Regions from separate parts of the Homo sapiens genome. Here regions 1, 2, 3, 5, 6 and 7 are each linked to region 4. Evidence: fine-mapped expression QTL. A gene starts in region 4. Each other region holds a variant in brackets. All regions are shown on one strand. Distances are between the middles of the regions.

Region 1 (4,066 bases), 110 kb before region 4:
TTGAAGCTGGGCAGCTCAGTCCTCCCAGGTTGGCCATCTCTCCCAACCTCCACATACCTCATGCCATATTCATAAGCAGCTGGACAAATAAGTCTCCTAAGTAGTGAATAGAAAGAGAGATTAAAGAGTACAAGAAGAAAAAGAAACCTTGAGCTGAATACTAGACATGTAGTCTAACAGCATCATTTTCAGAAAAGTAGTAGTTGAGCAAAACCAGGAAGTTATAATAAAAGCTTGGATGCGTGCTGAACCGTGGTGCCCATTTTGGCTTGACAGAGCTCCCAAGGGTAATGCCTCCCACATACTCCTGGCTACACCCACCCCGATCCCCCACAGACACTTCTGTCCATCCTCCTTCCCTGAGGTCAGAAGACTGTGCAGAGGGTTAAATTTAACTCAGGGGACCAATTTGGGCGTGGGTAGTAATTATAATACCTTGTACTTATGTCTAGCTATTCCTGGCCTGCAGCTTGTTTTCCTTCAATTCCATCCAAAGAGGTCAGTGAGCCTTGTAGATGTGGCTTCTGGGCCCTCCTGGGACAGACTTGCCGATGCTGTCCACATTGCCTGGTGGTGGAAACCAGGAAGGGATTTTTCTCCTCACTCTGTAAGCCACAAGGCAGGGAGGACAAATGACAGGGCTGCCTTTGCAGAACAAGTCACGCAGACTGAACTGAGGACTAGCCTGGGCTCAGCTCAGAGAATTGCTGGTCATTTAGTAAAGCACACAGAAAAGCCAGCTTAGCCAGGCAACCTTGCTGATAAGAGATTATTCAAATTGTGATCTCCAACTTAGATGACCAGTTAGTTTACCAAAAAAAAAAGAGAAAGATTTCATGAAAACTTACATAATACTCTTATCAATGAGGCAGTTCTGTTGTAAGAACTTTATAAATATTAATTCCTTTAATTCTCATAACAATTCTATTTAATGAGCACTATCATAAGCCTATTTTAGAGGTGAGAAAAGAGGCAGAGATTGGCTGAGAAACTTACCCAAGAGCGTACAGATAGTAGCTGGTGGGGCTAGGATTCAAACCCAGGGGCCTGGCTCCAGGATACCTGCTCTTGACCACTAACGAGAAGCTACCCTGCTCAAATTCATGGGCCCCAGGCAGATATTCTGATGGACTAGGTCCCCACATGATTCTGATGACTAGCCAGGTTTGGGAATCACTAAGTCAGTGGTTCTCAAACTGTGGTGTGCTTATTGATAATCGGATTCCCGGGGCCCAGAAATTCTGGAATTGGAACCCAGAATCTGTAGTTTTAACAAGCACCTAAGGCGATTCTAGGGTGGGTGGGGCAGGAAAGGAAGGCACTGGAGAAAGGGTGCCTGCAGTCCTCCCACTTCACCCCACCCACTTGGGGCACAGAAACTGATGCGGGCACCTCACTGAAGTCTGCAGAGACCATTCTTTCTCGCACCGGGGCGGCTGCCCTGGAGGAGGGGAGCTGGTGGCTGTGAGGCAATTCTGTCCCTTAGCCTCGGTGACAAGGCTGCCTTCAGAGGAGGGGAGGGTATGTGACCAAAGACAGCCCACTGTCCTTCCACACTTGACACGCTGCACATCAGAGGGAGACAGGCAGTTGGTAACAGGGAAAGAAAAAGAGACTAGGCGGTCTGGCCCCTATCTCCCATCGCCAGAACAATGGCCTCTTCAAACCCCTGGCATCTGAACTGGCAGTCAGCCACCAGGAAAGAAAAGAGCTCGCTGTCCCTTTAAGGACGTCCTCTCTACACAAAGGTCAGAAATGCCAGCTCAGCCTATCCAGAGGCTGCCTTTTTGGCACTTTGGGGCCCGGGGGCCCTGGTGGCAATGCCCTTTCCAGCTGGTTCTCTGTGCACCTGCTGGCTTCTGAAGAAGGCAGGGCACCTGGATGACAACCGCCGCTGTGGGCAATGCTCAGTGACAGGGCAGGAATGGCTGATGTGGAGGGAACCCAGGACCTCCTGTGCATCTCAAGTTTTCCTCCCAGGGAGAGTTAGCAAGAAATGGGTGTTGGAGCAAGGTTGGAAAGCCACCTACAGGAGGAGGGGTGGGGTCAAAAAGAAAACTGGCCAAGGAGTGAATG[C/A]TCCAAGAGAGACATATATGAACTAAAAGAGCAAAGGCTAACCGACAATTGGCCCAGAAATCACAAAGAGAACAGAGTAGAGAGTAGAAAGAGTTAGGAAGGAAAGGTGGTCAGGGGTTTGGTTGGAAGCAGTGGGGTGGTTAGGGCAAGGGCTTTTATTCTGCAGACTGGGTTCAAATCCTGGTACTTGACCTTGGGTACCTTTCCTAACTTCTTAGCCTTGATTTCTCTACAATATTGGCATACATTGAGCAGTAAATAAATATCAGAAACAAATACTGTCTGTTATTAGGGCACTAGCCACTCCATGTGTGTCTTGTAGGCAGCTCAGATGTTCAATCTCTCCTCAAAAGGCCTAATTCCCAGACCACACCCCTGGTTCTAGTAAATCATCTTGCAAATAATGCCATGAGCAAAGGAGGCCCTCATTAAGAAAATTGCACGGGCTGGTGCAAACCATGAGTCACCATGAGTCTTGTGGAAAAACAACTCAGAATTATTCAACTGCTAACAATATAAAGCAAGGTCGGCAAACTTTTTCTGCAAAGGGCCGGACAGTAAATACTTTAAGCTTTGCAGACCACACAGTCTGTCCTAACTACTGAACTCTGTTGTGATAGGGCAAGAGCAGTCACAGACAACAAGTAAATGAAAGCCTGTGACTACATCCTAGAACAAATTACAAAAACAGGCAGCGGGCTGAAGTTTGCTGACCCCTGAGATAAAGGATGGCATCAGTGGAGGAAATGGCGAATTCTTCTGCGAAATGGGATCAAAGATATGGAGGCAGAAGCCTATTTCTTGACCTTCTACCTTAGGAATGCAAGTATTTTACCCAGTTACTTGACTTCCAAGAAAAGTTTCTGGCTAACACCAGCCAACTGCACTGACTTCTCTATTCTGGTTTCCTCAGCATTCATATCCAGAGTTTATAGGTATCTCTCTCCACTTCAAAGGTTTCTTTTTCTTGCTGTTATGTGACAGTGGGAGCTGCCCATAAGCAGGGTTTCCTCCTTTGGCCAACTTAGTGAGGGTTGAATGGCCACCCCCAAGGTGTCCACACCAATGTCCTTCATAGCAAATGTCCATCCCCTATCCAACTTCCCTGGCCACAGAGGTTTCAGGTCTGTTCTTTACCAGCTTCCTGAACAGCTACACATCTCAGAAAGTCCATGTATATTTTTATTCTTTCACTGATCCAGTTAAATAGGGGAGTGCCTACCATGCTCCAGGTAAATCTTAGAAAGCAAGCATTTCACCTCTACCTTGGTTGGCAGTGAAGGCTGGCAGAGAGGCTATGGTTGGCGTTCTCTCAGAAGGCTCTCTGAGATGTGTTTATTTCCTGCTCCCTGGTGTCTTCCCACCCAGAAGCTCGAGCACTGCAAAATGACAATTTCTTAACGGCAGTAAAATCGAGAGGTATAAAAAGTAAGCTGAGAATGAGGAAACAGTGAAATCAAGTGCAAAGGAGGTAGACAGGGAAGAAACAAATTCACTTCACTGTTTCAATTTAAAAAAAAAAAGAAAAAGAAAAACTACTCGCCAGGCTGGGCGCAGTGGCTCATGCCTGTAATCCCAGCACTTTGGGAGGCTGAGGCGAGTGGATCACCTGAGGTCAGGAGTTCAAGACCAGCCTGGGCAACATGGTGAAACCCCGTCTTTACTGGAAATACAAAAAATTAGCCGGGCATGGTGGCACGCACCTGTAATCCCAGCTACTCGGGAGGCTGAAGCAGAAGAATTGCTTGAACCCAGGAGGCGGAGGTTGCAATGAGCCAAGATCATGCCATTGCACTCCACCCTGGGCAACAAGAGCAAAATTCCGTCTAAAAAACAAAACAAAACAAAACAAAAACCTACTTGCTGGCATCATTCTCTCCGCATAGAATGACCTCATTCCACAAACCCACCCTATGTGGTCCCAGCTTTTCTTCAAAGCTCTGCTCCCAATGCTTCTTCCCCAGGGAGACTTCCCTGATAAATTCTCCCA
Region 2 (4,066 bases), 42 kb before region 4:
TTTCTAACAGTCAGATGTGGGTAATAATGCATGCCTTAAAAGACTGCAGTTCTGTTGGATTCAAGATTGCCATTACTTTAAAAAAAATTAAAAGTTAAAAAAAAGAAAACATTGCAGTGGGGATTAGAAATGGTAGAAATCATCTGTAGAACATGTTTAGGGCAGTAGCAGGCCCTTGGTGAGTGTATCATAAATGGTGGATATCTATTACACTGAGTATTCAGTTAGTGTGTCAGAATATTTTGAAATAGCCAGTGCATGGGAGAAAGATAACAGAAAAGGCCCTTAGCCTGAAAAGTAGGGCCTCACCACCACTGACAGAAGAGAGAGCTGGGTTTTCATGCTAAATTATTTCTACATATAAAATGACTCTGGCATTTACTATTTCAGCTTAAGTAGGAAAGGTGTATGGGGGAAGAGAAGGCAGGTAGCAAAGATGGAGAGAATAAAGGAGGAGTTTCTGTGTGCCACCTGGCAAGCAGGTATGGACAAGTCTAATAATAGAAAATAAGTAAACAAATGTGACTGGGGTACTGCCACCTCCTTACAGAACATCCCTCAATATCCTCAAACACCACTTAGAAATAACATACTTGAGGTGAATATTGAGAATTTGTCTACCGAGTTAGAAGGTTCACTTCTGCTTAATAGCTCCCATGGGAACCTGCAGCAAGGTGGGTAGAATCCCTGGTCAAAGATTCAGGGATTCAAAATCCAGCTAAATATCTTCCTAGCTCCTTACAACTCATGAATACTTCTCTATTTAATGGTTCTTGGGACTGGGTGAGGTGGGTCACACCTGTAATCCCAGCATTTTGGGAGGTTGAGGAAGGAGGATCTCTGGAGCCCGGGAGTTTTGAGACCAGCCTGGGTAATACAGTGAGACTTCATCTCTACAAAAAATAAATGAAAACAAAAATTAGCACGGTGTGGTGGTGTGTGCCTGTAGTCCTAGCTACTGGTGATATGGGAGTTAAGAAGAAATTGTCAGGGCACGGTGGCTCACGCCTGTAATCCCAGCACTTTGGGAGGCCGAGGTGGGCAGATCACCTGAGGTCAGGAGTTCGAGACCAGCCTGGCTAACATGGTGAAACCCCGTCTCTACTACAAATACAAAACTTAGCCAGGCATGGTGGCAGACTCCTGTAATCCCAGCTACTCGGGAGGCTGAGGCAGGAGAATTGTTTGAACCCGGAGGCAGAGGTTGCAGTGAGCCAAGATTGCACCATTGCTCTCCAGCCTGGGGGACAAGAGCGAGACTTCGTCTCAAAAAATAAAAGAAGAAATTATTTAGGCAGATAGTGAGGGTAAGGAAGTCCTCCGTAAGATTTTCCTGTTAATGAAAAGCATCCCCCAAATCATTTTCTTTTCTAACAAAGAGCAGCCTGTAAAATTTAGCTGCAGACATAGACAAGCAAGCTGGAAGCTTCCATGGGTGAATGCCAGCAGTTGTGCCAATAGGAAAAGGCTACCTGGGACTAGGCATGTTCAAAATGGTGGCTCCATCTTCCCTTCTCTTTGCCAGCCACATGTATGGTAAGGAGCAGACAACATGGTGCCAGCCAAGTGGAAAGCCCATCTGGATAATAAGATTAGGGTGGAGTGGCCAGCCTTCCCCCTGGGCTATGTAAACGTCACACCTGGTCCAACCAGTCTGTGAGCCCTATATAAATCAGACACCACCTCCTCAAGCCTGTCTATAAAAATCTGGTGCACTCCACAGCACCTGGCGTAATTCCCATTTGGGTGCCCCTCTCTCTCACAAGAGTGAGTTGTTCTTTCTCTTTCTTTCGCCT[A/G]TTAAACCTTCACTCCTAAACTCACTCCTCATGTGTGTCTGTGTCCTTAATTTTCTTGGCATGAGATGACGAACCTTGGGTATTACCCCAGACAACAACGCTGCTTCACCGGGGAGGCCGAGGTGGGAGGAACGCTTGAGCCAAAGAGATCAAGGTTACAGTGAACTATTATCACACCACTGCACTCCAGCCCAGGCAACAGGGTGAAACCATATCACTAAAAAAATAAAATAGTTCACCTCTGAACATGCCCATGTCTGTGTTTAACAAAAGAAAAGGCTCTCTCTCCACTTCTTTCTTTTTTCTTTTTCTCTTTTTTTTTTTTTGAGACAGAGTCTTGCTCCATTGCCCAGGCTGGAGTGCAGTGGCATGATCTTGGCTCACTGCAACCTCTGCCTCCTGAGTTCAAGTTCCCACCTTAGCCTCCTGAGTAGCTGGGATGACAGGCCCGCACCACCATGCCTGGCTATGTTGGCCAGGCTTGTCTTGAACTCCTGGCCTCAAATGATCCACCTGGATTGGCCTCCCAAAGTGCTGGGATTATAGGCATGAGCCACCACACCCAGCGTTAGTTTTCCTCTCTTGATGGCCATTTTATTGCAAGAACATACATACTACTTTGTAATTGCTGAACTTCCATTAAAACAATATTATAATAAATTCAGGAGCTTTACTATGCAGATTCCTTGGCCCCTCTCCAAATGTATGAAGTCGGAGTATGAACCTGTCCAGGTATACGTATTTTTAAAAAGCTTAAAAATGATTCTGGGGGGCAACCAGGATTTGAGGTTCACTGGATGTTATACTCAATGCCCCTACTTCTTCACCACTGCTTTATGAATTAATCTATTGCAATGTGCACCCCAAGCCTACCTCTCCTTGGTTTTATCAGCAGGGACCTCTGTTACACCAAGACCAACGACAATAGTTAAATCTTAATCTTTGACCAGCCAGGCAGGTCTGACATTGATGACTATTCTCCTTCTTGAAACGCATATTTCTTGCATTCTCTGGCATTACTCTCCCCTGTTTCTTGCGTTTTGTCCTACTTTCACTTCTTTTTCTGGGGAAGTTTCTTGGGCTCTTCTTCTATTTGGTCCTAAAATGTTTCCCGGGACTCATTCAGACACTCATTTAAAATTACCAAGCATCAACTATGTACTAAGCATTGTTCTAGAATCTAGATACTGGGTATAGAGCAGTAAACAACACAGATGAGGTCTCTGCTCTTAAGGAGTTTACATTCTATTGGGTTCCTGCTTCTTCCTGTTTTATATCAGGGAAACCTAAGTTTTGTGGACCTCTGAAATTGTTATCAATATAATGTGCAATAATACTATATGTTCCTGAGAGAAGTTTACAGCCTTCATCAGATTCTCAAATATGCCTGGGCCCATATGAGGTTAAAATCTACTGCAATTCATCTCTTTGTGAGATCTTATCACACTCAAGGCTTCAATTATTATGAATATGCTGATAACTCCCAAAGATAGCAGAGCACAGAACTGAACGATGTGGTCACTCGTCACATGCGGCTACATAAATTTAAATTAATTAAAAATGCAGTTCCTTAGTCACACCAGTATTTCAAGTACTCAACATCCATATGTGGCTCGTGGCTTCATTGTGGACAGTACAGATAGAGAGCATTTTCATCACTGCAGAAAACTTTATTGGACAGCACTGGTATGGATCAAACCCAGGATTTGAGTTCTAGCTTGGCCACTTGTTTTCTTAGCAACTCAGAGCAAATTTCTTAACCTCTCTCTACATTCCCATCCTTTTATCTGTCAAAATGTAAGCAACTTTACAGACCTGTTGTGAGGATTAAGCAAGTTAATTAATATCCAGCACTTAACGTGGTAGCCCTTCCTAGTTTACTTTTTGTGTTCCAAGCTCTTGTGTTCTCTTACTTGGGAGGCTGAGGCAGGAGAATTGCTTGAATCCGAAAGGTGGAGGTTGCAGTAAGCCGAGATCGTGCCACTGCACTCCAGCCTGGGTGACAGAGTGAGACCCCGCCTCAAAAAAAAAAAAAAAAAAAAAGAAAGAAAGAAAGAAAAATGTGAGTTGGCTGGGCATGGTTGCTCATGCCTGTAATCCTAGTATTTTGGGAGGCCAAGGTGGGGTTATCACTTGAGCCTTGGTGTTTAAGTCCAGCCTGGACATCATGGTGAAACTCTATTTTTAAAATAAATAAAAGAAAAAAAATATGAGCTGCTCTCGGCAGTTTTGTAAGTAGTAACTGTCTTCTAAATAAGAAATGGTTAGCT
Region 3 (4,066 bases), 65 kb before region 4:
AAAAGCCTTCACAAAAAGAATAAGCACAAACAAGCCAAGACTGTGAAGACTACAATAAATGCCTAACTCTTCAATGCACAGACACCAAAGAACATCTACAAGCATCAACACCACATCTAGGAAAACATGACCTCGTCAAACAAACTAAATAAGGCACCAAGGACCAGTCCTGGAGAAACAGAGATATGTGACTTTTCAGACGGAGAATTCAAAATAGCTGTTTTGAAGAAATTCAGAAATTTAACATAGCACAGAGAAGGAATTCAGAATTCTATGAGATAAATTTAACAAAGAGATTGAAATTATTAAAATGAATTAAGCAGAAATTCTAGAGGTGGAAAATGCAACTAGCATGCTGAAGAATGCATCAGACTCTCTTAATAGCAGAACTGGTCAAGCAGAAGGAAGAATTGGTGAACTAGAAGACAGACTATATGAAATATGAAAATACAGTTAGAGGCGACAAAAGAATAAAAAACAATGAAGCATGCCTACGAGATCTAGAAAACAGCCTCAAAAGGGTAAATCTAAGAGTTATTGGCCTTACAGAAAGAGATAGGGGTAGAAAGCTTATTCAAAGGGATGATATCAGAACTTCTCAAACCTAGAGAAAGATATCAATATTGAAGTACAAGAAGGTTATAGAGCACCAAGCAGAGTTAACCCAAAGAAGACTAGCTTAGGCATTTAGTAGTCAAATTCCCAAAGGCCAAGGATTTTAAAAAAGGATCCTAAAAGCAGCGAGAGAAAAGAAACAACATACAATTGAACTCCAATACATCTGGCAGCAAACTTCTCAGTGCAAACCTGACAAGCTAGGAAAAAGTGGCATGACATATTTAAAGTGCCGAAGGAAAAAAAAAACCTTTTACCCTAGAATAGTACATCTGGTGAAAGTAACCTTTAAGCACAAGGGAGAAATAAAGACCTTCCCAGACAAACAAAAGCTGAGGGATTTCATCAACTCCAGACCTGTCCTATAAGAAATGCTGAAGGGAGTTCTTTAATCTGAAAGAAAAGGATGTTAATGAGCAAAAAGAAATCATCTAAAGGTAGAAAACTCACATGTAATAGTACACAGAAAAACACAGAATATTATATCACTGTAATTGTGTTGTATAATGTACTCTTATCTTCCATAGAAAGACTAAATGATGAACCAATCAAAAATAATATCTATGGCAACTTTTCAAGACGCAGAAAGTACAATAAGACATAAAGAACAACAGAAAGCTAAAAAGCAAAATTAAAGTGTAGAGTTTTTATTTGTTTTTGTTTGTTAGTTTGTTTATGCAATCAGTGTTAAGCTGTCATCAGTTTAAAATAATGGGTTATAAGATAGTATTTGCAAGCCTCATAGTGACCTCAAATCAAAAAAACACACAACCGATGCACAAAAAATAAAAAACAAGAAAAGACAAAAAAAAAAAAAAGAAGAAGAAAGACAAACTTCGCATGGTTTCACTTATTTGGGGGAACTAAAAAGCAAAACAATTGAACTCATGGAGAAAGAGAGTAGAAGAATGGTTACCAGAGGCTGAGAAGGGTAGTGGAAAAGTGGGGGGAAGTGGGGCTGATCAATGGGTACAGAAAAAATAGAAAAAATGCGACCTAGTATTTGATAGCACAACAGGGTGATTATAGTCAATAATCATTGTACATTTTAAAATAACTAAAAGAGTATAACTGAATTGTTTGTAACACAAAGAATACATGCTTGAGGGGATGGACACCCTATCTTCCATGCTGTGACTATTACATCCCTGTATTAAAGTGTCTCATGTAACCCATAAACATATACACCTACTATGTATCCATGGAATTTTTTTAATTTTTTAAAAAGCATATTAGGGCTTGTATTTATATTTATGTTTATTCCATCTTATTAAAATTTGTTTCATTATATTACAGTATACATAAAATATTTAGTACAGAAGTACACACATAATTTATGTGTGTGTGTATGTGTGTCTGTGTGTGTGTGTGTGTGTGTGTGTATGTATATATACATATGGTATGTGCTCAAACAATTTTAGTGATAGGTGTTTGAATCCAAGCCGGAGCATCAACTTCTGGTACAATGACTTCCTCAATACCTAGAAGAGCAAGTTAGGAGTAGTAAAGAGCTCTCCCGAGCTTACATGATTAATCAGTGAGTGATTGAAAAGAGAACCCAGCAGTTTATCCCCTGACTTCATCTCAACCCTGGAGTACAAGGGAGGCAAAGAATGCAGCAGAGAGCAGGACAAGCCTAAGATCGGACTCTCTGTTTTGAGCCCC[C/T]GAGTTGCCACCCACTCACATTCCTTCTTCGCTGAGGCTGGTAGGAGGATGGAATTTCTCCCAGCAGGAAGTAGGGAAGCTGGGGAATAAAAATTACCATCCATCCTGCCAGTTGTCCAAATCTAAATCCCAACTATGGCATCAGCAAAGATAAGAGGAGTTTGCTGAGCTATAATTAACAACCCCCCTTTCTCAGGCACAAAGAAGAAGGGCTAGAGTAGGAGAAACAGAGCAGGTGATGGTTACACCTGCAGACAGTTCTGCTGACAGCCACAGAAGCAGCCAGGACTGCTAAAGAGGAGCTCTAAGCTGGGAACTTGGGGAAGCAGGAGCAAGACAGGAGCACTCACTTGCTTCTTTGCCCTGCCCTCAAAAGTCAGAGCTTAGCTCAGACCTAAAAAAAAAAAAAAAAGGCCTTAAGTGCTGTCTTCCACAAGACCATGTGACCCCCTAAGCATATGTGCAGGTGGATCAGAGAAAGGGGAACATGTGAGAGGTGGTCACAGATCAAAACATTTCCATGAGCATGAAAAGTTTAAAAAGGTTAATAGATGTGTAAAGGTCAGTCTTTGCCCTCCATTTGGGCTACAGTCACGAAATTCCATGATCCTAGAATGTCAGCATTAACAAAAAGTCGTATATGGTTATTCATTGGTTCATTTACTCATTTAGTAAGTAGTTAAGTATGATTATGTGCCAGGCACTGTGCTAAGTGTTGCGGACACAATAAAACAAAGATGGTCCCTGCTCTCATGCAATTTAGGGACTAGTTGGGGAGACAGACAATGATCAAGTCAACAAATAAATACAATTATAATGTGATTAATGCTAAAATGGAAAATAAGCCATTTATTTTGATGCAAGTGAGGGAGAGAAACCCTACTGGGACAAAGGGGTAAGAGGCAGCCTCTCTGAGATGTGACAGCTCCCAGGTGAGGAATCTGAGCTGAGAGCAGTTCGAGTGATGAGTCACTAACAGGGAGGAAGAACTCAGGTCTTCCTCTCCACCAACAGCACCACTATTAACAACATTGTTCCTGGGATCTGAACAATAGGAACATCTGGGGCCTCTACTGAAGCTGTTTACAAAGGGACACTTCCACTGCAGAATTTAATCAAAGTGAGCCTCTTCTGAGATGGGACCCTCTTCCTAATCAGCTGGAACAAGCTGAACACCTTCTGGGCCCACGTTCCACATGGAGTTCGAGTGGGCTGCCTGCGGGTAGGTCTGGAAGCCCGTCCACACAACTGCCACTCTGGGCTTTTCACCCCACCCTCAAGGCAGCTGTCTCTCACCAGGACAGTGAGGACCAGAGTTTATATAACTGGCTTCCCCTGGCAACTGGGAAGTCAAACATTACTTCTCATGGATTCATGTGTGGCTTCCCTTAATAAGTTTGCAAACCTCCTGCTCAAAACTCACTCTCCACACCCCTTGCAGGCTAAGCCCAGGCCTACTATTTGCTGACAGTGACACAAGCTGCCACTTACTGTGTGCTACGTCCAGACACAGTGCTAAGTGCCTTTCTTATTTTATCTCAGTTCAATCCCCACAAGCTCCATAAAGTAAGTACAATTATCTTCATTTTTCAGAAAGGAAACATTCAGAGAGGATGAAATGTTTTTGCAAAAGCACCACAGCCAGGATGTGGCAGAGCTGGAATTTAAACTAAGGTATTTTGGTCTCCAAAACCTGAGTTCCCCGCAGCCATTACTGAATCTTGTCCTTGCACCACATCACAGGATCAGAGACTTCCTTATTCTACCATTATCTGTTGAGAACCTA
Region 4 (4,066 bases):
CTTCCCCCACACCCTCCTCAACATCACCACTATTAGCTGTTACTAGACTGAGCTCACAGAAATATTCAGTAAGTACTTACTGAATTGAAATCAATGTAATTGAACAGATTTGGAGAAGGAATTCCAGGGAAAGTGATCAATGACTCAGTTGCTCCGCACAAGAACACAAATCCATTAAGAGACAGGACCCTAAAGTCTCAAAGTAAATATGTAGGATTCGTGGTACCGATGAACAAGTGAGGACTCCCTGCCCTCCACCAGGCAAGGGGCTTGGCTCAGACACAACTTCCTGAAGCAGCAGTCCTGACCAGGGCTGTGTAGAGCTGCTCTAGGGCGCCCTGCAGCAATTCTCTACGTGAGGGAAGCTCAACCTTCTCCCATTACCCAGATGCCACATTGACCTAGGCAAAAAACTAGCTGGTACAAACCACAGTCTTGTAGGTATCGATGTCTAAAGACTCTGATATGGTAGGAAATGTGACTCACTCAATGTCAATATTTCACTTCCACACAAGTGAGCCAGTTAAGGCAATCCGGTGTGGCCAAACATAAAATAAGATTGAAACGGAGTCCTGAAATATAAACCACTTAACTGTTCTCTGGCCTTTTACTATCTCCTTCTGTAGAAAGGGAGCCATAGTAATACCTACCTCAGAGAGTTTGCGTAGGGATGAAATCTGGAGGTACATGAAGTGCGCAACATAGTGGCCCGCACATGGTAAGGGCTCAATAACTATTAGCTGTTATTATTTTTATTATTTATTTCGCTGCGAGGATCAAGGGAGATGGAATGCAGCGTAAAGCCCCACGTAAACGTGTCGTGCAACATGAAGCCCCTCACCCTGAGTTGGGGAGCGGGTGGCACGCGTGGAAGCTGAATGCCACCATCCCTGGGACCAGGCGCAGCGCCCTCCAGAAGCGCCTCTGGTGACGGGCTCCTGTTCTCCCCCAGGACGTTTCCCCCAGAATGCCCCGGGGCCCTGGACGGCTCTGGAGAGGACGGGAGGGAAGGGAAGGAGACGGGCGGAACGGGGACGTACCTGCTTTCACTGCACTCCTTCCGCTCCCTCACCCTCAGCCACTTGCGGAGGAGGAAGCGTTTTCGGCGCGGGGACGCGCTGGGTGTGGAGCAGTTGGACCACGGGGTGTCCTCGTCGCTGGAGGGCGTGATCTCGATGGACGGCAGCTGCAGGAACTCCTTGCCGGGGGCCAAGACGGCGGGCAGGTCCCGGGCCAGCCCGGCCTCCAGGCTCTGCTCCTGTACGTTCTTCATGCGGCGCATCTTGAAGCGCCGGCGGCGAAGCGTGGGGGTCGACGAACTGGACCAGACCGGGCTGCCCTCGGGCGCACCCTGCGGCTCGGGCACCTGCAGGGCGGGCAGCGGCCGGTTCTCCATCATGTTGGCCGCCGGCATGGGGGCCGTCGCCTCTGCGCTCCCCCTGAGCCCTCCGCCAGCGGCCTGGTTCGCGTCTCCCTCTGGCTGTTCCCCACCCTCGGCCCCGCGGCACACTCCCCAATCCTGGGGCCGAAGGAACAAGTTCCTTTCCCGGAGCGCAGCGAGGAAGGGACGCGAGGGGACGCGGCGTAGCGCGCCGCCGCCCGGAGTCTAACTTTTCGGAGCGCGCGTCCTCCGGGCCGTCAGCCGCCGGCGAGGCCACCCGGGAGGGGCGGGAGCCGCCTGCCAGCCACTCGGCAGCCCTCCTGGGGCTCCCCTCGCGCGCCCGCTTGTTTTTCTTCCGCTGCGCTTCCTCGCTTGCTGGCGTCTTTGCCTTAGCGGGACTCGGCAGCCAGGGGCCCCAGGGGGCGGTGCAGCAAACTCTCAGCGGTTTGCGTTCAGCAGACCAGGTTGGGGAGCCGGCTTGGCGCTGCAGGGAGGTAGAGAGCGGGAGGAAGAGGCAGTGGTAGGAGGGAAAGGGAGAGAGAGACAGAGAGAGAGAGAGAGAGAGGAAGCGAGACACTGGATAAAAACAAAAAAGGAGGAGGAGGAGCGGGGGCTGGGGGCGGGGTGAGGGGGGCTATCCTGAATGGGCTAGCACTGGCAGCGACCGCTAGTGTAACTGTACACGGATTCCCTCGGGGAGGGACTCGACCTCCAAGTAAAGGCTGCTCCAATCAGCCTACTGAAATAGGATCACAAACCAAACTTTCTCAGGGCAACGATTGGCCAGGCAACTCCCATTAGTCGAACTCGGCTATTTCCTTGGGGGTGGGGGGTGCAGAGAAAGGGGAGTCAATGAATTCAGTCCTCACTCTCTCAGGCCACCCATGATACAGGGTTGAAGGAAAATGAGGAGACTTTTCAACTAGCTCTTGTCTCCTAAGAAAGGCAGTTTAAATTATTTGGGGGCGTGAGTAGTGGCACTGCAGGCCGGAGTATAGTCAGAGGAGGAAAGCAAGGTTGCTGGAGGCTGCTTCCAAAATGACAAGCTGAGAAGAGGACAGTTCTCCCGTGGCGGCGTGAGCTGAGGATACCAGACATGACATACCAAGGAAAGACAGACAACAGGGTCTGAGAGACAAAGGACACAGGACCAGTAAGGAAAATGGGGCCTGAACCCTGTACATGAGCCAGCTGCCAGTACCATAGCCGCGTCCCTAGCAAAGAATGAAATGAGGAGTCGGTGAGCACCCACAAAGCAATGCATCCAACAGAGCCCCAGGGAGTCGAGGGTACCCCCCCTTACATTGCTGAGGGCTGATTCAGTTCTGCTTCAGCCTGCCATGGACTGAGTCACAGAATCCAGTATGTCCCCATGTCATGGAACCTAGGAAGTCTGGTTCAGTCCTGGTAGCATCCCAAGATGTGCTGAACCACACTCACTCTCTAGACCCAGGCCCTAAGAGATCATCAACCCTAGAACCGATCCATCCTATTTAGGTGCTCTCTGTGGGCACTGAGTCTAACCCAGCCCAGCTCCTAGAGCAGGGCTGTAGCAGCCATTCTCCTCCTTCAACCCCAGCCCAATGCATTTGTCTCTTGGGTCAGTAACTGTTTTGTTTTGTTTTGTTTTTAAGAGACAAAGTCTCACTCTGTTGCCCAGGCTGGAGTGCAGTGGTGCAGTCATGGCTCACCGCAACCTTGAATTCCTGGGCTCAAGCTGTCCTCCCAGCTGAGCCTCCTGAGTAGCTGGGAGTACAGGTGCGCACCACCACACGCAGCTAAGTTTTATTTCTTTTTGTCGATATGAGGTCTTGCTATATTGCCCAGGCTGGTCTCAAACTCCTGGCCTCAAGTGATCTGCCCACCTTGGCCTCCCAAAGTGCTGAGATTACAGGCATGAGCCACCATGCCCAGCCTGGTCAGTAACTTTCAAAGAGATCATGAGAAGCACCCAAGAACATACCATGAAGTCCACAATCTGATCCACCCTTCTTTTCTGCCTCTCTCAGAGTCCAGTTTCCATCTGGGAGCCAATGCCCAGCTTCCGTGCCAGGACAAAAGTCACATTTCACAAGTGTCCCGAAGCTGAGGAAAATTCACATCCCTAAAGATCACAAGAATTCACTGCAAGTAAATACATCCCTGCAGTTCAGCAAGACATCAAGGATGACAGCTGGCTATGGATCTACCAAGCTCTGCAATGACACTTGTCAAGTATGGAAAAGCTCAAGGCATCCTGACATTACACAACTTTTGAGAGGCTGGGAAACCAAGGGAAATATTTCTTCCTCAGGGAGAGAGATACTGCGGCTGAAGAGCCAAGGCCAGGCCCTCCCATAAATGACTCCCTGGAATGTCAGCCCCCGTTTCTGAAATCCAGCCACTGGCCCTCTCAGGAGTGATTTGGTTTCACTCTACTTTAACTCCTGGACATAGCACAGAAAGCAGAAACCCCTTGCCATCAGGTGTCAGGCCTGCCAAGGTCACCTCTTCCGGCTCCAGGGATGCTGAGGAGATTGCACTGTAACTCCAAACTTCAGGATCGGGAGCTAAGCCAAGTTCCACAGAGTTTGTTCACTGCCTTGTACTTCCTCCAAGGACGAGTGTTTTGCAAGGGATCTGATAACTTCCCAGTTCAAGGAACCTGAGTTTTGGGCGGGCTCTTGACATAGAAGATGAGGGTCT
Region 5 (4,066 bases), 160 kb before region 4:
TATCTTGATTCTTGGGCAAAGAGCTTTCTAATTTCTATACAGTCTGCTAAATGTGCAGAGGTCCTGCCATTATTTGCCACTTACAGAAACACAGAATATTGGTGCAGGATGTGGCCATATAAATCATCTAGTTAGGCTGGGCACAGGGCTCACATCTGTAATCACAGCACTTTGGGAGGCGGAGGCGGGCGGATCACCTGAGGTCGGCAGTTCAAGACCAGCCTGACCAACATGGAGAAACCCCGTCTCTACTTAAAAAATACAAAATTAGCGGGCGTGGTGGCGCATGCCTGTAATCCCAGCTACTCGGGAGGCTGAGGCAGGAGAATCGCTTGAACCCAGGGGCTGGGGGCAGGGGCGGAGGTTGCAGGGAGCCAAGATTCTGCCATTGTACTCCAGCCTGGGCAACAAGAGTGAAACTCTGTTTAAAAAAAAAAAAAATCATCTAGTTAATCTTTCTCTTCCTTAGTATACGAGATGAGGAAATAGAGGCAAAGAAAGGACTAGCCTAAAATCACACCGCTGATTAGTTACAGAACCCAGAAATTGTGCAAGCCGGTTCTTTAAAGTCCCAAGGCCAAAGCCCTTTCTACTTGACTATGCCTCCTCCTGCAGTCACTCATGCCAAATATTTGCCTGCATTTGACAAAAGCAAATGTTCCCAGTCCTCTCTTCCACACCCAAAGGGGAGGGAGGGAGGGGAAGACATGGCAGAGGAGACCTGATTATTGGGACTTAGAATTGAATATCTTTCAAGACTCAGGCATGCTTTTGTTAATTACGCAAAGGCTTGGGAAGAGCATGAAGTCAGCAAAAGGAAGAAAGCGAGGGCAGCTTGCTCAGCCATAGCCAAGGAGACAGCCCAAGGGAGCATGCCCAGGTCTTTACCAGAGTTTCCCAGCGGAAGATGTTGCTGTAGAAGCAGATCCAATTTTCAGAGAGGTAGAGTCGGCCCTGAAGGAGAATGTCTCTTTGGAGTGCACATGAGTAATCTGTGGTAGGAGCGGAGGTAGGGGAGCTCAGAGGCAGGAAGCATTTTCGGCAAACCACTGCAGAGTAGGCATGTCATCCCTCCCACCAGCACTGGGGGAGCCCAATGCCCACCACGGACAAGGGGTGCCAGACACTTGAACTAGCAGCCAAGGAAGTCCCTACCATCTCATGATGAGGAGCATAAAGGTGGTGTGATGTGCAACTGCCTAGAGGCAGATAAATAAATGTGAAGGCAAAGTGGGCCAAGGAAGCAAGAGGTGGAAAAGACCAACAAAATTCAACTAACTTCCCTCCCCAGTCCACAACTATGCTAACCCCTTCTGCCACTGGGCCAACTGCAGAGATAAAAATGCCAGTGACTCACTCCAGGTTGGGCTCTTGAGGCTGCCACAAGCCTGATACTCAGCCTCGAGCCCTGACAGCTGGGGCCAGGGGTCTGGACAGCCTCTCTCCCTGTTCCCTTGCTTACCTGGGTTGGCTTGAGGCCTCTAGAGAGAAGCACCCTGAGTGCTATGCCGGGGGCTCCCCAGACTTCCTTCCCATCCCCTCCCAGGTCACCCAACTCACCAACAATGAGGCGCTCCGTGTCTGGAAGCTGCTTAAAGAGCTTTCTGAAGTCTTCATTTCTCTGCTTGTAGGTGGGGCTTAACACCTGCGTGACAATAGCCAAGGTTAGTAGGATGTACCCCGGTTCTGTGGGGTTAGGAAGGAAGGGCAAGA[T/C]GAGGAGCACTTGCTTGTGTGTTTAAAAAGCAAAGATGAGGCTCTGCCCTCCCACAGACCCTAGGAGGCCAGGCTGAGGAACGGCGCCTCGGTGTGGAGAAACACAGTGGGGAGAATCTGGTGCTGGGAAACACTATGCAGCCAGGGCCTCCACCAGTGAGAAATGCCAGACACAGCAAGGAGGGGCTCTCGTTATATCCCGTAAGAGAAAGGAAGGAGGGACACCTCCAGGGTGCTTCCTGGTATCCACCATGCCAGCTACTGCTGTTCTGCCTTCTGCCAGCACCACCTTGACAGTGAAGCAGGGACCCAAGAAGGCTGCCCAGCCCCCCATGATGTTGCCCAGAGCACCTCTCAGAAGAAGGTGTTGTCGTGATTATCAGAGTGAGCACTTGGCTGTGTGGGAAAGACATGATTTTCTAAGAAATCACATAAAACCAGTACTGCAATAAGCGCAGAGATAGAGAATTAAAAAAACACAACGGGCACACGAGAGGCATCCAACTCCCCTCTCCATCCTTACATTATCTAAACCAATCCTTACAGCATCAAGGAAGAGACCAAGGCCAGAGAGAAGCCCCCTGCCCCAGGTCCTCAGCTGGTCAGTGTCAGATCTCATGACCCCTGGTCCTGTGCTCACTTCCCCCCACTGCAACATGATACCCAGAAACTGCCTTAGCAAATCCTCCTTGGAAATCCCATGAGCCAGCTGAATACACAGAAATCCTGCCCTTTGAGGGCTTACAATCTTGTTTGTTTGTTTGTTTGTTTGTTTGTTTGTTTAGACAGAGTCTCGCTCTGTCACCCAGGCTGGAGTGCAGTGGTGTGATCTCGGCTCACTGCAACCTCCACCTCCCGGGTTCAAGCGATTCTCCTGCCTCAGCCTCCCGAGTAGCTGGGACTACAGGTATGTGCCACCTCTCCCGGCTAATTTTTGTATTTTTACTAGAGATGGGGTTTCGCCATATTGGCCAGGCTGGTCTCAAACTCCTGACCTCAAGTGATCCACCCACCTCGGCCTCCCAGAGTGCTGGGATTACAGGAGTGAGCCACCGCGCCCGACCCGAGGGCTTACAATCTTAAATTTAAAAAATAAAATAAAAAAGAAACTAAAAAGAAAATACGTGCCCACAAATGAGGAGCACCGGGGGTGACAGATGAAATCAAGTGCAAAACCTGGGACGAGCCACGCACGGCCAAACGGAGACACCCACACTCCACCTGTGATGCACTGACTACCTACACAGAGACAGCACTGCTGACCCTCAGCCTAGGGTGTAGCCAATGGCTACAAAAACAAAACAAAACGACAACAACAAAAAACTTAGAAAACAACATTCCTCTGGCCCCTATATTAGTTTCAAACTGGCACTGAGATATGGAATCAAGATGGCCCCCTAGCCTCTTAGAACAGAGTCCACACACTGAAAACCCCAGCTTGACCACCTGATCGCCAGTGAGTTCTCATTATGCCTAACTGACCTTCTAGAGCTGCTATGTGGCTAACATGGAGTTATCATCACCTACCAAGCACAGCCATAAGCCATGTGCATGTGGCACTGCATCAGACCCCAGATTATTTTTATTATCCCATTTTGCACTTGAGGAAATTGAGAAACAGAGAAGTTAAGCAACTTGGAGTGGAATATGAGTGAGGCAGTCTGACTCAGTGCTGTCTGAGCCCCTACTCTGTGCTGCCTCTGGAGGGTAACTGCTCCTGGTCCTCCTGCCAAGAGGAAGCAGAAGGGCTTCCCCAAAAGAGCACACTCCCTTGAGAATGAGATATTTACCTGCTTTGCGGCCCCTGCTAGCCTTCCAAGCCCTCTACTAGGTCTTCATACTTACAGAGTTCCAGTGTCAGCCTGAGGAGCAGCCGACCAGGAGACCCCAAACACACTTCAGGTGAAACCGGATGTCAGGCCTCCAACCCCCTGAAGCCCCAAGTCTTCCTATTTCTAATTTCCTGTCCTAGTGCCTTCTCCCCCTTGCTTCTCACATATCCAGTAATAGCTCAGGTATCCACAGAGGTGGAGGTACAGGGCGTTTGGCCACCATCTCCAACCCGCAGGCAAATCGAGGGGGCCGCTACTTTCCTTAAAACAAAGCTGTAGCAGTGGCAGGGAGAGGGGAGAGTGAATCCAGCCCTGGCCTGCTAAGTCAGCCAGTCTGGAAACTCCTTTATCCAGGCTTCCCAACACAAGCCTATTCCACAAGGCTGTTGTGTGCATGGCAGGCTCATCAGTTGGGCATGCTGGGCCTGCCACCATGCAGCCTCTCGAAGCCAGGGACCCCAGCCCTCTCCCTCCTCCACCCCCAAAGGCGGGGCCTGGCTCACCTATTTCAATTTAAAATG
Region 6 (4,066 bases), 55 kb before region 4:
CTTGGTTTTCCTAAACTCTAATATGCAGATAATGGCATGTACCTGATAAGGCTGTTGAGAGGAATATATTTAAAAATGTATGCAAGGTTTATTACACAGGTTTAAGCACAGAGTAAGCACTTAGTGAACTTCTTTATTTATTTTCTTTTGAGACAGAGTCTCACTCTGTCATCCAGGGTGGAGTGCAGTGGTGCGATCTCAGCTCACTGCACTCTCTGCCTCCTGGACTCAAGTGATTCTCCAGCCTTAGCCTCCTGAGTAGCTGGGACTACAGGCGCACACCACCACACCCAGCTAATCTTTGTATTTTTAGTAGAGACAGGGTTTTGCCATGTTGGCGGCTGGTCTCAGACTCCGGGCCTCAAAGGGATCCACCCCCATCGGCTTCCCCGATTGCTGGGATTACAGGCATGAGCCACCACACCCAGCTTGTAAAATTCTTCAGTTTTATTACCTTACGCATAATTTCTTAAGTCATTTATTACATTATATTATACTTGTTTATTTGTAAGTATATCACACCATAAGAGAATCAGCTTCTTGAGGGGAAATACCACAACTTAATCTATTTATCTGGAGTCTAAATATGTGACATTTGCAGATGCTCAATATTCTACACTTTCTTTCTGCCTTTGCTTTTTCTTTTTGTTTTTTTTTTTTTTTCTTTTTTGAGACAGGGTCTCACTCTGTCACCCAGGCTGGACTGCAGTAGCACAGTCTAGGCTCATTACAACCTTCGCCTCCCATGCTCAAGGGATCTTGTACCTCAGCCTCCCAAGTAGCTGGGACCACAGGCGCATGCCACCATGCCCGGCTAATTTTTTGTAGTTTTGATAAAGACGGGCTTTTGCCATGTTTCTCAGGCTGGTCTCAAACTCCTGAGCTCAGGCAATCCACCCACGTCGGCCTCCCCAAGTGCTGGGATTGCAGGGGTGAGCCACGGTGCCCGGCTTTGTCTCTGCTTTGTCAAGAACAGAAGGGTGTAAGATCTGGTAGGAAACTGAGAGTAAAATGTTATGATAGCCAGAATCAGAGTGCAAGCAGCTACCATTTATTAAGCATCCACTTAATGGCTCTTTACGAATGTTTTCTCATGTATTCTTTACAAGAAAATCCAATGGACATCAAATTTTTACAAAGGAGGAAACTAAGGTTGAGGGTTGAGTAACACTAAGTAAATTGACTTTACAAATGCACAATCAGGCTGGGTGCAGTGGCTCACGCCTGTAATCCCAACACTTTGGGAGACAGAGGCAGGTGGATTGCTTGAGGTCAGGAGTTCTAGACCAGCCTGGCCAACATGGTGAAACCCCATCTCTACCAAAAAATACAAAAGTTAGCCAGGCATGGTGGCACACACCTGTAGTCCCAGCTACTCGAGAGGCTGAGGCAGAAGAATCTCTTGAACCTGGAAGGTGGAGGTTACCGTGAGCCAAGATCATGCCACTATTCCACCCTGGGTAACAGAGCAAGATTCTGTCTCAAAAAAAAAAAAAAAAAAAGAATGAATTAATGTCCTATATTCCATACACACACACTTCGGGGAAGTTACCTATTTTGCTTTCTACTGGACACCTGGAAGAATTATTCTTATCTCTGAGACAATCTCCATTTCCTAATAAACACATTTTCATAAAAATCAACCCTTCTTGCTGATGCCACACCCACTCAGCAAATGTATGTCACAGTCCTTCAACCTACGCTCTACTCCTGTCAAGGTTCCAAAGTCTTTCCTTCAGGACAGAGCGTCAATGTGAATAAGGAAAAAATCTTTCTCAGAAATCCTTAGGTTTGAACACCGTATTAAGGTATTCCACCCACTGCTGTGTAGAGTAAGGTAGCTACGTAGTCTCTGAATACTATAACCGTTCTGAACCTTACACAAAAGCAAGAAAAGAAAATGTTTTATTAAACCAGCTGAAAGTGCATCTGGTACTGAAAGATTTTAATTTGAATCTTTAAAATAGAAGAAATCAATGCTAATTTTTTTGCCTGCTCTATGAAACAATCTTTCATGTTACAATTGATGATATGGTTTGGAAAATTAGAAGAAGCCACAGAAAAAAAATCCATAATATCCACCTCATCCTTGACCGTTTTCAGTCAGTGACAATACTACCCAGCTCCATCTGCCACCCAGGGGCATTACGAAGAGTAAAGAAGATGACTGCAGGGAGGCCTCACCAGTGCAGGAAATGCCGCCATTCACAGCTTGGTGCACTGTCCCTCAGAGGGGGCCAGAACGAGGAGCACAGGCCAGATGCCCGCCACTGCCCACATCTCCCCAGGGTTCCAATCTCACCCCAGGTCAGAACATCACAGATCAACGTCCTAAACACCTGGAGACTCTTAACTGGGTAGGAAGAATTAGGTGCAGAGCGTAAGTTAGTTCTGAGCTGAGCCTGGGAGACTAATTTGAGCTCCGGAAACTTGTTCTCTCCAGGAGAAGGAACCCAGCAGCCAAGATGAGAAGAAAGACTTTCTTCGGAAGGGCTATGGTGAGTGAACACATACTAGAGCCAATTTCTGAGGTT[T/C]TGGGGGTTGGAGGGGGGGCCGGTCACAGGGACCACCAGAGGAAGCATACTTCTGACCACATTCTCTCTGTTCCTCATACTCTCCAAAGCGAGTTGATGCAAAACAACATCCCCATCCACCATAAAGAGCTTAGGGGACTGCGAGTGGGCCAGGATGGGAACAAAGGACCCGGGAAGAAATCGAGAGAGTTTTTCTGGGCAGAGGTTTAGATGGGAGAACCTTTGTAACATTTCCTGTGGTTGGAGGAGTGAGTGGTTAGAGAGGAGAAATTAGAATAGAATTTATATCAGTGTAAAGTCCCAAATACCAAACAAAAGGCAGAGTTCTCTCTAGTTAGCAAGCAGCTATGTCCTTGGGGAAAATGTATTAGGGTATATGCATCTCAGCACTACTCATCTCTTCCAGGAATGCCCCAAGCAGCAGAGATAATATAAAGTGAGTTGAGGAACTGTCAATCATAGAACTGGTAGAAGAAGAGCAGGCAAAGACATCACGCTCAGAAACGGACAGTATACTTCTGGAGATGTTTGGTGCACAGCACAGGGAAGGTGGCTGTGCTGGGCGACCTCTGTGGCCTCTTCTAATTTTGAGATTATGATTGCTGCAATCTAGAAAGCTTTGCACAGAGAGTGGAGGGTACTCCAGGGACTGAGAGAACTGCCATCAGATCAGATCGTACCTGATTAAGCATCTTGACAAGAATGATTAGTCTTTGCTCCTTGGAAGTGCCATGTCTCCATATACGTCGGTCTAAATTGATAAGCTGAACTGTTTTGATTAACAGGGGGCATAAAACTGAGAACCAGGGCAGAACTCACAAGACTTCATAATCTAAAGAAATAAGGACTAGAGAGGTTCCACTCTCTCAACCAGAACGAAATCCCTTTTGACACACCACCCAGCTTTTGCTTGAACACTCCTATGAAGGGGAGAGATTACAGCAGTCCCCCCTTATCTGCGGTTTGTTACCCACAGTCAAGTGTGGTCAGAAGATATTAAATGCAGTGGTGGCTAATGCCTGTAATCCCAACACTTTGCAGGGCTGAAGCAGGCGGGTCACTTGACCTCAGGAGTTGAGAGCAGCCAGGGAAATGTGGCAAGAACTTGTCTCTACAAAAATATACAAAAATTAGCCAGGTATGGTGGCAGGCGCCAATAGTCCTGGATATTCAGGAGGCTAAGGTGGGAAAATCACTTGAACCCTAGAGGCAGAGGTTGGAGTGAGTTGAGATCACGCCACTGCACTTCAGCCTGGGTGACAGAGACCCTATCTCAAAAAAAAAAAAAAAAAGAAAAAGAAAAGAAAATATTAAATGGAAATAAACAGTTCATCAGTTTCAAATTACGTGTCATCCTGAGAAGCACGATGAAATCGCTTGCTGTCCCACCTGGAACGTGAATCATCCCTTTGTTCAGCATATCCACGCTGTATACATGCCCCACCCGTTAGTCACTTCGTTCTCAGTTCTCAGATAGAAAATCCAAGCTAGTACAGCTCTATCATGGAAGAGTGCTTTCTTATCCTGAGCTG
Region 7 (4,066 bases), 140 kb before region 4:
CAGAATCCCTGCTAACTGGCTTCAAGCAAGAGGTTGGCAACACACTCTAACCAGAGGAGAACTGACTCCAACTATCCAAAACCACACGAATCTCACATGAAATGATCAAAGCATGAGAACTCCTCACCGCCCAGCAGTCCCACTTTAGCCCACTCTACACACACCATGCAAAGATCTACACACCTAAAATGCTGCCTTCAACACATCAGCCAATAAACAACTTATACCATCTCTCTGTGCTCTTAAGGCTGTTGATCATCTGTGCTGTTCTTGGAAACTTCTCCCTGATGACAAGCACCTCTCTTCTACTCCTCTGCCGGTCTCAACTACTGTCTCAACTCTTGCTACCCAGCCTGCAATTAATCCTTCCCTAAAGGTGAGTCTGTCACCTCCCTGGCCGTCTCCAGCTTTCTCTAACTTCAACCAGGCAGAGACTCCTCTACCTGCTTCCGGCCCTGGTCACAGTCGCTAGCCTGACCCAACAACCTGCTGCCAGGTGGATGCTTCCTCCAGACAATGTCTCATGAGTGCCCCACACTGAACACAGAGCTGGACATCTTTCCTCCCAGACCTCCTCCCACGACTGCCCATTCTCAATGGCAGTTTCATTACCAGGTTTCTCAGGCTGCAGACCCCTCTCTTCCATCTCACTCCACTAAAAAATGAGTCACTGAATTCCACCAATTCTATTTCTACAAAGCTTTTTACCTCATCCTTCCCTTCCTTCCCCAGGGCCCCAGTTCAGGTTCAAGGAATTCTGCTCACCCTCTTCCAATAAATAGCCAGTTGAGTGGTCTTCTCTGCCTCCTTTTCCTCTTCCTACTCACTCACAGCTGTGTCATTAATCTTTCTAAATACAAGCCCAACATCTTACTGTGTTCTAGTAGCTCCCACATTAAAGTCCCAAATCCTCAAAATGGAATCTAAAGTTCTCTGCTAAAAGTAAATGACACCTCTATGCTTTTTCTCTCCTTATATGCTCTTAAAGGGCTTGCATATTCCACACCTATACACTTTCCCCCAATTCCCTTAATATACATGCTCTTTCTCCTGCCTCCAAACTCCCATACGACGCACTACTTGAGCCTAAAGAGCCCTTGCCCTCTGCATCTCCCTGCTGGAGTCCTGCTCTTTCTTCTTTTTTTTTTTTTTTTTAATTCTGTTCATTCTTCAAGACCCATTTCAAATCCCACTTGCTCCAAAAAGCTTTTCTAAATCTCCACCTTGGAGCTGACTAAAGCACTGAAAGCACATAGCCTGGTATGAAGGACCTACAAACTCCTGGAGGCTCAGCCCTCTGCACGCCCCACACGACCCAGCAGGGCTCTGTAAGTGGCATGTTTTCCGCTGAACTGAATCCCATCCTAGTGACAGTCTTCATACCCTTGGCTTTACCAATTCCGAATATCAAGATGGCTCCCAAATCTGTACCTACAACCTGCTAATATTCATAAAAATAACTAAACATTATTGAGTGTTCATGAGCTCCTGGTGCAGCACCGAGTACTTATTAAATATTATTTCGTTTAATCCCCCCAACAAACCCATGAAGTTGCAAAGAACAGTATTATTAGTCCCATTTTTCAGGTGATATATTTGGATTCTTGACAGATTAAATAATTCACCCAAAGTCACACAGATGGATGGGAGGCAGGGCAAGATTTCAAACTTTCAAACACAGGCCTATCTGATTGTCAAGCTCATTTTCGGAAGCAGGCATTCAATTGTGTTTGTTTGCCCGGTGGACAGAAAGAGGCACAGATGGAAAGACAGTGGGTAGCTGGGTGAGTACAAAGAAAGAAGGAATCAACTTCCTGCCTCCAGGCTTCAATCCATTCTCTCTTTTCCTGTCAAAGTGAACTTTC[T/C]AAAAAGAGGATTTGGCATTTTTTTCATCCTTTTTGATGATTAAAGACCCCTATAATTTCCCACCCTCTGTGGAATAAAACCTGAACTCTAGACTATATGTTCCTCAATTATCTCACTCAGCCTACCTCTGAAAACCCCAACACTGGCTACATTTCCAGTGCACCTCTGCCTCAGCCATCGGGGTCTAACTGAGCTCCTGCCCCAGCCATCAGGGCCTACCTGCGCCCCTGCCCCAGCCATCGGGCCCTACCTGCGCCCCTGCCCCAGCCATCGGGGCCTACCTGCGCCCCTGCCCCAGCCATCGGGGCCTACCTGCGCCTCTGCCCCAGCCATCGGGGCCTACCTGGGCCTCTGCCCCAGCCATCGGGGCCTATCTGCGCCTCTGCCTCAGCTATCGGGGTCTACCTGCGCCCCTGCCCCAGCCATCGGGGCCTCTTTGTGCCTCTGCCTCAGCCATCGGGGTCTACCTGCGCCCCTGTCCCAGCCATCGGGGCCTACCTGTGCCCCTGCCCCAGCCATCGGGGCCTACCTGCGCCCCTGCCCCAGCCATCGGGGCCTACCTGCGCCTCTGCCCCAGCCATCGGGGCCTACCTGCGCCTCTGCCTCAGCCATTGGGGTCTGTCTGCAGATCCTTTTGCCATACACACTCACTCTTCCATGTCTCAGCAATCTCTCTCTCTCTCTCTCTCTCCCTCCAATTACCTGATGGACATCTACACTTCCAGACTAAGCCCACATATACCCCTTACATGTCCCCACCCGGTGCTCTACCTCCACTCTGATCCTTCTCTACAAAAGAAGAAATGTTTGCAGTTCTAGTTCTAACTCAGCAAAGTCAGCACTAAACTTGCTAGAGTCCTGAAACTCTTACCAGTTAACCCATTATCCCATGGATTTGGATGTCCTGCTGAGCAAACAAAACCAATTCCTGAGTATCTTCTAACACCTAACATGCATAACATAACATAAAGTTTCAAACCAACTTTATAATGTGCCATTCATCTGACCCTGCCACTATTATTAATAACAGGATTGCATTATATTTCAAAATCTTGGGATTTAAGAGCTAAAAATAAAAAAGACCTTACATATGCTGTAGGGATGGAAGGAAGACTGGTGTTAGATGGGCTATGGGACTAAGACTCCCTCCCAGAGTTTAGAGTTAGTATATTCAGCTCTCAACTTCACATGTAAGAAACCTGAGTCTAGGGGGGTTAAGTACCTAGACAAGGTGATATGACTTTGGATCTGGCTCTTCAGTTCCACAAATATTTCCTGACCACCTGGCATATGTGAGGCATTCAAGTTCATTTTGGTGAATGAGAAAGGATCTGTGTGCTTGGGACATTTCCAGTCAGGAAGAGCTAGAGGCCTATTCTTCCCGTGTTAATATAATCAGTAGGTGGGATGATAGAAGAGAATAAAGGAAAACAAGAAATGCTGCCTTGAGGATGTGGCACTTGAGCTAGATTCAGAAAATGTGTTGGAGTTAGCCAGGTGAAGGGTACGGGGTTCAAGGAGGGCACGGTAGGAGAGAAGAGAATGTTCGGGGTGGCGGACAGCATGAACAAGGGTGAAAAGGCATAAAATAGCATGGGATATATGGAACATTGACAGAAACCATGAGTCACCAGGTATAACATGCTCAAGCTGATGTTTTAGAGATTCCTGAAATCATCAGCTCTCATTCATAATAGGTCTTCTAAGACCCCCACCAGCCACCTTTAAGCCATGGCAGGGGACCCGGAGGTCATTCATTCATTTCCCCATTTCCCCTCTTTTTAAGACCTGCAACACAGACTATTATTGCTCTCCTCCCCTGGTTACCTTGCTAGCAAACAGTGCTCCCTGAAGTCTGATCACAGTATCTCATGCTACCTATGGTTTGATCCTACCTCCTATAGTTAGGTCTAGCTGATGTCCTTGAGAAAAGGGAAGTAGAAAAAGAGGATGAGGACTCTCTTCAGGCTTTCTTCAGTGACTCTCTGCGGCATCCCTGCCCCCACCCTCACCCCCCACGCCCACTGCAGACACGGTGGCCGCTACACCACTTTGCTTGGCTTTCTTCCTCATCCTTATCCCCACTGTGGTCCTGCAGGCACAAGGCAGACCTTGTCAGCAAGCCAGCTCCCTGATCAGCTACCCGTGCATTTTTCAGAATCCTGAGTAGAGCAGAATAGTTAGTTGGTGTTCCGGTGTT

Alleles and levels. Positions count from the first base shown, and alleles are read on the strand shown. Sizes are in standard deviations (SD) of each study's normalised expression. Not every link is listed here.
In carriers of allele C in region 1, the expression in sun-exposed skin of the gene that starts at base 1,938 in region 4 tends to be lower than with A alone (small effect, 0.30 SD a copy in GTEx).
With allele A in place of G in region 2, the expression in whole blood of the gene that starts at base 1,938 in region 4 is lower (moderate effect, 0.53 SD a copy in Lepik 2017).
As copies of C replace T in region 3, the expression in tibial nerve of the gene that starts at base 1,938 in region 4 goes up (small effect, 0.12 SD a copy in GTEx).

The links. PIP is the estimated chance that this variant, and not a neighbour inherited with it, causes the effect.
Region 1: its variant is the best candidate, but not a certain one, in a credible set for the expression of GRAMD1B in sun-exposed skin (GTEx, PIP 0.69).
Region 2: its variant is the best candidate, but not a certain one, in a credible set for the expression of GRAMD1B in whole blood (Lepik 2017, PIP 0.76).
Region 3: its variant is the best candidate, but not a certain one, in a credible set for the expression of GRAMD1B in tibial nerve (GTEx, PIP 0.60).
Region 5: its variant is the best candidate, but not a certain one, in a credible set for the expression of GRAMD1B in whole blood (INTERVAL, PIP 0.89).
Region 6: its variant is the best candidate, but not a certain one, in a credible set for the expression of GRAMD1B in whole blood (TOPMed, PIP 0.81).
Region 7: its variant is the best candidate, but not a certain one, in a credible set for the expression of GRAMD1B in cerebellum (GTEx, PIP 0.73).

Annotation. Positions count from the first base shown.
Region 1 is chr11:123,542,509-123,546,574 of GRCh38, reverse strand. The region is part of intron 2 of GRAMD1B (GRAM domain containing 1B); the gene reads right to left. Among named protein-coding and RNA genes, the nearest start is that of SCN3B, 110 kb to the left of the region's middle. The variant C/A (reference allele first, on the strand shown) is at 2,077.
Region 2 is chr11:123,470,284-123,474,349 of GRCh38, reverse strand. The region is part of intron 1 of GRAMD1B (GRAM domain containing 1B); the gene reads right to left. Among named protein-coding and RNA genes, the nearest start is that of GRAMD1B, 42 kb to the right of the region's middle. The variant A/G (reference allele first, on the strand shown) is at 1,797.
Region 3 is chr11:123,493,046-123,497,111 of GRCh38, reverse strand. The region is part of intron 2 of GRAMD1B (GRAM domain containing 1B); the gene reads right to left. Among named protein-coding and RNA genes, the nearest start is that of GRAMD1B, 65 kb to the right of the region's middle. RefSeq lists enhancers at 2,614-3,130, 3,131-3,647. The variant C/T (reference allele first, on the strand shown) is at 2,281.
Region 4 is chr11:123,428,141-123,432,206 of GRCh38, reverse strand. GRAMD1B (GRAM domain containing 1B) reads right to left here and starts at 1,938. Exons shown (of 20, transcript NM_001387025.1): 1 at 1,041-1,938. The coding sequence starts at 1,414. It overlaps LOC124902776 (a long non-coding RNA gene), which reads left to right and starts at 993. Exons shown (of 2, transcript XR_007062928.1): 1 at 993-1,260; 2 at 3,391-4,066. RefSeq lists silencers at 1,311-1,360, 1,471-1,800.
Region 5 is chr11:123,591,661-123,595,726 of GRCh38, reverse strand. It overlaps GRAMD1B (GRAM domain containing 1B), which reads right to left. Exons shown (of 20, transcript NM_001387025.1): 5 at 1,561-1,645; 6 at 889-992. Among named protein-coding and RNA genes, the nearest start is that of SCN3B, 61 kb to the left of the region's middle. The variant T/C (reference allele first, on the strand shown) is at 1,714.
Region 6 is chr11:123,483,152-123,487,217 of GRCh38, reverse strand. All of the region lies in intron 2 of GRAMD1B (GRAM domain containing 1B), which reads right to left. Among named protein-coding and RNA genes, the nearest start is that of GRAMD1B, 55 kb to the right of the region's middle. RefSeq lists an enhancer at 4,029-4,066. The variant T/C (reference allele first, on the strand shown) is at 2,535.
Region 7 is chr11:123,571,166-123,575,231 of GRCh38, reverse strand. All of the region lies in intron 2 of GRAMD1B (GRAM domain containing 1B), which reads right to left. Among named protein-coding and RNA genes, the nearest start is that of SCN3B, 81 kb to the left of the region's middle. The variant T/C (reference allele first, on the strand shown) is at 1,866.